2 linked regions of the Homo sapiens genome follow. The protein of the gene in region 2 purifies or fractionates together with the protein of the main gene of each other region. This does not show direct contact. Each region holds a gene or a part of one and is shown on either strand. Other genes may lie near its edges.

What was found.
Region 1: the proteins of WDR4 (region 2) and KIFBP fractionate together in Homo sapiens (co-fractionation; one large-scale study listed by BioGRID). This does not show direct contact.

What each region holds. Positions count from the first base shown.
Region 1 is NC_000010.11:68,987,596-68,991,602, reverse strand, and holds the start of KIFBP (KIF-binding protein), read right to left. Parts: upstream 2,801-4,007; 5' UTR 2,771-2,800; coding exon 2,345-2,770; intron 476-2,344; exon of another isoform or gene 1-475. UniProt on the Homo sapiens protein: Activator of KIF1B plus-end-directed microtubule motor activity. Required for organization of axonal microtubules, and axonal outgrowth and maintenance during peripheral and central nervous system development.
Region 2 is NC_000021.9:42,848,313-42,852,231, forward strand, and holds the end of WDR4 (tRNA (guanine-N(7)-)-methyltransferase non-catalytic subunit WDR4), read right to left. Parts: intron 1,931-3,919; coding exon 1,737-1,930; 3' UTR 914-1,736; downstream 1-913. UniProt on the Homo sapiens protein: Non-catalytic component of the METTL1-WDR4 methyltransferase complex required for the formation of N(7)-methylguanine in a subset of RNA species, such as tRNAs, mRNAs and microRNAs (miRNAs).

The sequences.
Region 1 (4,007 bases), on a different chromosome or scaffold from region 2:
GTCAGCTAGCTTTTTGTACTGCACGTGATGACCTCCAGCACTTGCTGCCAATGCCTTAGCTTTGTCAAGTGCTTCTGGACCAGTGCATGTCTCCAATGTTATTCATTTCTTAGTTCGGAGACATCGACATCCTCATTGATAACTTGCTCTGGTTTCTGGACAGATAATTGCAATCTTTTTTGTAGGAAAGAAATATTCTGTCTTGCAATATCCAGAAACTTGTGTATACACCGATCAACACCAGTTCCAATTTCTTCCTGATTGCTGCCATTGACATAGTCCTGACTTAACGGAGAGGCAAAGCAAGTCTGGAAAGATGACTCCATGTCATCCACCAAAGTACTGTTAGAAGGTCTCAGAGGCCCTGGAGCTGCTGGTAAGTAAAGGAAGCCTGGCCCCAGAGCCCCGGTGGTGGTTGGGGCCCCGATGGCTGCCCAAAGAACATACTGCCTAGCAAAGCAGCCATGCCTGGAATAATTTTTTTTTCTTATTTTTAGTAGCGATGAGGTGTCACTATGTGCCCAGGTTGGTCTTGAACTCCTAAGCTCGAGTGATCATCTCATCCCAGCCTCCCAAAGTGCTAGGATTACAAGTGTGAGCCACCACATCCGGCCTTTTCTACATAATTCTAAATATGGCTTATAGTCTTCTTCCTCCCTCTTCATATTGCCAATTTTTGTTAATATAAATTATTATTTTTAATAATTGTGTACTGTTCTTCTGTTTGGATGTAACGGAATTTAATCATATTCCTACTGACATTTATATTGTTTTCCTTTTCTTTGCTTTTTGAGACAGGGTCTCACTCTGTTGCACAGGCTGGAGTGCAGTGATACAATCTTGGCTCACTGCAGCCTTGACCTCCTGGGCTCAAGCGATCCTCCTGCCTCAGCCCTGCGATTTTCCTTCTTTAATAATCAACACTGCTGTGATAAACATCCATGTTCACCTGTCCCAATATTATTTTAACTTTTTAAAGTATTTTTCTTTTTTTCACCCCTTCTTTTCACAGGTGTTGACCAATATTACTTTAGAATATTGATGTGGATTTTGTTGTTGTTGAGAAAAGGTCTTGCTCTGTCACCCAGACTGCAGTTGCAGTGGCATGATCATGGCTCCTCCAGGGGCTCAAGTGATCCTCCCAGCTCAACCTAGCCTCCCCAGTAGCTAAGACTACAGGCGTGTACCACCATGCCTGGCTAGTTTTGTGGGTTTTTTGTTTTGTTTTGTTTTGTTTAAGAGACAGAGTCTCACTTTGTTGCCCAGGCTGGTCTTGAACTACTGACCTCACGCCATCCTCCCACTTCGGCCTCCCAAAATGCTGGGATTACAGATGGGAGCCACTGTGCCCTGCCCAGATTTATTTAAGAAACCAAGTACCATATAAATGGGAAACAAAAAGTATTATAAGAATTCAAAGGTAGGAGGGAGAGATCAGTTTGGCCCAAAATGGTCCCAAGAAAGTTATTAATACTAAAGGAAGTGATTCTTGAGATAGGTTTTCAAGAATGGGGAAGAATTCCCTAAGATGCAAACAAATGAATTTGGTAAGAAAGGAAGCTGCAGATTTTGGACATTTTATTTTGAATTAAGAATGTATTCCGAGCCAGGCACAGCGGCTCAGGCCTGTAATCCCAGCACTTTGAGAAGGTGAGCCAGAAGGATCACTTGAGTCCAGGAGTTCAAGACCAGCCTGGGCAATATAGTGAGACCCCCATCTCTACAGAAAATTAAAAAAATTACCAAGAATGGTGGCATGCGCCTGTGGTTCCAGCTACTATGAAGGCTGAGGCAGGAGGACTGCTTGAGCCCAAGAGGTGGAAGCTGCAATGAGCTATGATGGTGCCACTTAACTCGAACCTGGGCGACACAGTGAGACCCCATCTCTAAGAAAAAAACAAAAACAAGACAAAACCAAAAAAGAATGTACTCCGGTCATTGTCATTTCCTTGAGACGTTAAGATTTAAATTACTTTGGATTTTCTTAACAGAATGAACAGGAGTTGGACTGGTGGAGAGGAAAGCGCATGACGATGTAGGAGGGTCTCGGACACCAATGCATCGCCACGTCTAAGTGAAGCAGCAGCAAGCGATATTGGTGTGGGCGACGAGGGTGGACACGGAGTCTGGGGACGGCCGACTGTGGGAGATCTAGTTACAAGGCAATAAGTCCATAAGACTGGCTTTTTTGAAGACCACAGACGCTCTTTGGGACTCAGTCCAGAGCTACAAAAACGTGGGGACGAATTGCGCCTTACAACGTCTGCCCTTGGCCTTGGCAGGGGCTCCTCCCCATCCCTCGCCATTTGCCAACAGGGGCCGGCCTGGCCGGGCTCGCTCTCACCTGCGCCTGGATGCAGAGAGAGATGCAGTCGTGCGAGAGCCGGTACCTGCGCAGCAGCCGCAGGCATTTCACCAGGTGCTCCTCCCCCGCCGACAGCTCCTCCGTGTCGATGTGGTTCACCCCGAGGTGGAACTCGATGACTGCCAGCCTCACCGCTCGCTGGGCGACGGGCCCCTCGGGCTCCACCACCTCAGCCGGCAGCCCCAGGGCGTGGTCACCGGCACCCGGGCCGTCCTCGGCCTCAGGCCGCTCATCCTCGTCCTCAGGCGCAGGGCCGAGCAGCGCCTTGACCTCTTCCAGTAGCGCCCGGGCGCTGTATTTGGACTTGTATGGTTCCTTCTCCGGATTTTTATGCAGTTCCACCCGCGACAGAGCGAGCGCCGCCTGGAATTTCTCGCAGACCTCTGCCCACGGAACGTTCGCCATAGCGGCCTCTACTGCCTGGCTTTCCTCAATGTTTGCAGTCGGGACTCCCGCCTTCCTTCTGCTTTGCGACACTTTACTTACGGCTCTCGACACGTTGCGGCCGCTGTGGAATGGGAACCAATATAACCCTCCCGGAGAACCGCAATACGCTCGGCAATGACCAATGGGAAGACGCAGCAATCACCACAGCAACCATTCTCATGGAAATGAAGTTGTCAATGAGCGTGTTCCCACCTCCTTCCCCGCCCCCTGCAGCGGTGAGTTTATCTCCAGATTGACCCTGTGAGGATGGATTTATATAAATGTTTAATATCGGCTTACTTTAACGAAGCATATCGGAATATTGTTTACAAACATAGCTAGCTAACTCTACTCGCGTTGATATGAACTGAAAGGCAAAAACCTTTAGACATTAAGTGTATAGCCCAGCCTGTCACTGGATAAAACTTTTTTTAAAAAAGGCCAGGCGCAGTGGCTCATATCTGCAATCCTAACATTTTGGGATGCCAGTAACATTTTGGGATGCCCACTGGAGTGGGCAACATAGCAAGACCCATCTCTACATAATTTTTTTTAAAAAATTAGCCGGGCGTGGTGGCGCGCGACTGTAGTCCCAGCTACCATGGAGGCTGAGGCGGAAGGATGGCTTGAGCCCAAGAGGTGGAGGTTACAGTGAGCGAGACTGCCTCAGAAAAAAAGAAAACACGAGCATTAGAACAAATACCTAATGTATGCGGGGCATAAAACTTAGCTGACAGGTTGATAGGTGCAGCAAACCACCATGGCACATGTATACCTATGTAACAAACCTGCATGTTCTGCACATGTATCCCAGAACTTAAAAGTAAAATAAAAGAAAAAAAATTGAAATGTAGCCAAGAGCTGATTATTATCATTGACACATAATCTCTTGATCGAGAGCCATAAATATACAAAACACTCAGTGATAGACAAATATTTTCACTTCGACCCTGAAATACAGGTTGTAGGAATCTGTACAACTGCCCAAGGTAACAAGAGCTAAGTCCCACAGCTGTGAAAGCCGCCTCATGCCTTTTACCTTCCTAAGTTATCAAGTCAAATGGGGAGGGGTGATAGAAGATTTTAACTATTAAGCACCAGCTGTGTACAGTGCTTTGAGACATACAAAGGAGCATTGATTTTGGGAGCTCATAGACATATGGTTTGAACCTCAGACCAACCAGCTTTCTTATTGACAAGTTAACTTTTTTAAGCT
Region 2 (3,919 bases):
CATGCAGCGCACGGTCACGCAGTGCGCACCTCACACACACACAGCGCACGATCACGTGGCCTGCACCTCACTCACACAGCACACGATCACGCGGCGCGCACCTCACTCACACAGCGCACAATCACGCGGCGCGCACCTCACACAGCGCACGATCACGCGGCGCACACCTCACTCACACAGCGCACGATCACACGGCGCGCACCTCACACAGCACACGATCACGCGGCGCGCACCTCACACAGCACACGATCACGCGGCGCGCACCTCACAGCACACGATCACGCAGCGTGCACCTCACACACAGCGCACGATCACACCGCGCACCTCACACACACAGCGCACGATCACGCGGCGCGCACCTCACTCACACAGCGCACGATCACGCGGCGCACACCTCACTCACACAGCGCACGATCACACGGCGCGCACCTCACACAGCACACGATCACGCGGCGCGCACCTCACACAGCACACGATCACGCGGCGCGCACCTCACACAGCACACGATCACGCGGCGCGCACCTCACTCACAGCACACGATCACACCGCGCACCTCACACACACAGCGCACGATCACGCGGCGCACACCTCACACAGCACACGATCACGCGGCGCGCACCTCACACAGCACACGATCACGCGGCGCGCACCTCACTCACAGCACACGATCACGCAGCGTGCACCTCACACACAGCGCACGATCACACCGCGCACCTCACACACACAGCGCACGATCACGCGGCGTGCACCACACACACAGCGCACGATCACACCACGCACCTCACACACACACACAGCGCACGATCACGCGGCGCGCACCTCACACAGCACACGATCACGCAGCGTGCACCTCACACACACACAGCGCACAATCACACCGCGCACCTCACACACACACAGCGCAGGCACCAAGGAGTTTTGCCTGGTATATTCGGTTGCTGCTAAACATTCCTAGGAAGTTGAGAAGGTTCATCCTTGCTGATCGGTGATTGAAATTCAGCAACATCCCTGTGGCTCTGCAGTGTGTGCCAAGGTCAAATCAAATCATAACGACGTCCTCAATCACCTCCCTGTAAACCGGGTGCCAGCCAGGCCCGTGCTCACACTTCCTGAAACAAGTTCACCATCTGTGCCACCGATGCCAGACAGAGCTCCCTGCGACTCCGAAACGTGTTTCTCACTTCCCACAAGGGAGCCACTCTCCAGGAGCAGCTCCTGAGCACAAGGGCTACGGCTGGGGCTGGGGCAGGCTCAAGCATTCGTGCTGAGTTTCAACAGCCTGTGTGGCGAGCAGCTACTGCGGGACAGCACGTCACCTGGATGCTGAGACGGCGGAACAACATGAAAACATCCACCATGCCAGAAACGTCAGCCCACAGATGCTCCTAGAGGAAGATGCAGCGGACACGAAGGGCGGTATGAGAACAGGAGAAACACAGACAGCTGCCGCCACCACCGGCTCACACGCAGCCTCCGACATGAAAAGAAAGTGCTTCAAGAGCTTCCACTCCACTGGTCTGGCTTCCCTTCAACCAGAAAGGGGGCACAGGCACCCAGCAAGAGCCTGTGCTGGTGACACAGAATGTTCTTTCTAGAGCCCAGGGGACAGCCCCATCCTCTGAGCTGGTCACAACTGATGTCACCTTTTCCTTCTTGAAGGGACATGCCAGGATGCAGGGGAACAAGTTAAAAAGCTTTTCCTAATTTGAGGTGAGAGACACCACTGACCGCCACGATCAGCAACTTAGCGTCGCCTCCCCCGGTCTCATCTTCTTGGCATGCCCGTCGGGCCCAGGCGGGGGACTCCGGCGCCGCTGCTTCTTCTCTAGCTGCTGCTGCAGTCTCTCCTCTTTCTTCTTCAGGTAGGAGGTCACGTTGTCGAACGTGGCCTTGTAGAGACTGCTGAAGCTGGCGTCTGCGCCGGCAGAGCCTGTGATGGGGGAACAAGGACAGGTGCCAGGTGGGGCAGGAACATGGGACTCGGCCACCACAGCGGGCCCCCTGCAGCAGGGAGTTACCTCGTGACTCCCAGAGTCCTCGGTGGACCGTGGGGGGCGCCTTCTGGGACGGCTCCCCACGGTGCCCACCTCCTGGGACCCACACCCTGGCTGGACCTGAGGACTGGCTACTAACAGAACGGGGCAAAGATGAAAGAATGTAATGGAAACCAGGGCACCAAGGCTGGGCCTCCACCCCGCCAGCACTCTCTGCTTGCACGCCCGGAGAAAGCCACTACTGCACCATGAGCCGCCCTGTGGAGGGGCCCAGGTGGCAGGGGACCAGGAGCAGCAGCCTCTGGCCAACAGCCAGAGAGGCCCCCTGTCCTGCCGACAACCCAGACTGAGTGAAGTCGGGCCCTGCCTGGTGAAGCTGAGATGGCCACCTGCAGAGACACAGCTCAGCTGAGTCCGGACCCCTGACCCACAGCAACAGTGAGACAGTAAGGGTGGGGTGCCTTAAGGCATCGAGTGTGGGATAGCATGTTCTGCCGCCACAGGGAATGGACACGGATTTCATCTACTTTATCTAAGTGCCAAGGATTGGGGGCAATGACTGACCACAGGCACACGGAGACAGCCTCAGCCTGGCCAGGAAACCACAGGCCCAGCCGGTAACCCGCGCACCAGCGACTGCCTGAAGCCTGCCCATCCAGCAGGTGGCGCAGCCTCCCCGCCCCTCCAGCGACTCTGCTGCTTGTGGGACACTCTAGCAGCAGCCCTCCCCGGTCCCTCTCCCAACGCAGGCCCCCAAGTCTGCGCCGGGAACAGGCTGCTCTATCTATGGAACATCTCAGGAGAGCGAGCCCAGGCTTTGGCCTGAGACTGTTGTGCAAGGTGACACTCAACAGGTCTATGCTGTCCGTGGCCTAGAGCACGGGGGCCATGAGCACTGCAGATGCCCGGCCATGAGCACTGCCGCCTGCAGTCCCTGACACAGCCAGTGACAGGCCCACTCTGAAGTGTTCCTAAAGCAGATCCCAACCACGCTGGGGGGCCCAACCCTGCCCGTCTCAACCCTCAACATCCTAAGCAAAGCAGGAGGGAGAGAAGCCTCAGAGGCAGAGCCAGCGTGCCGCCACTCGGGGAGCCTGGCAGAAGGCGGCTGGGCCCCAATCAGCGGAAACTCCTCCGACCTCAGTGTGAATCCCTCCAGAGCTCCAAGGAACCTCAGTGCTCACTGCAGTGGGGTTTAGCTTTGCAAGACTTCAGAGCAGCAACTTCTTGTCGTGAATGAGGCACCTGGATTCCATGCTGGGCTAATCCATCCTGCAGACACCATCACCTCCAAGACTGCAAGGTGCTGGCACAACGACGCACCCAGAACTACAGTGTGTCGTGTCCCCAGAAGGCAGGGTAGAAAATGTTCGTCCAGCTCCTCCCTCAGCCTGGCTGCTCTCCTTCCTGCAGCCGCAGCCACGGGAGTTGCTGGCTAGATTCCCTCCCCTCAGCTGAGTGTTCCTGTCAGGACAGTGACCATCCTGCCCCTGCTCAGCCTCCTGAAGACCCCCGGGGCCTCTGGCTAGACCCCCACTAAACCTCCCAGTGAGGCCCTGCACTTACTGACGCCCACTGCAGTGGGATCAATTCCCTCAACACCATGGACCAGGCATGAGGCAGCACAGCACCAGCTCCCTCTGGGAGCCACCAGCTGCCAGCCCTGCCCTGGGGACCTTCAACGCCCAACTCTGAAGGCAGGTGCTCAGACCCTGAGCCCCCGGTTCCTAAGTGGCTCTCGTTAGCCTGACTCCCATGGGGGGCTCCTTCTTCTGCTGTGCGTCACCCACCTCCTGCCCTGCCCCGCCTTCTGGATGGGGACACACGCTTACTCTCCCTCTTTATCTGCACACCAGGTACCCCGGGCAGGTCACAGTGTGTGCTTCTGCTTTCTCTGGGGACCGCGCTGGGTGTGACCCCCAAGG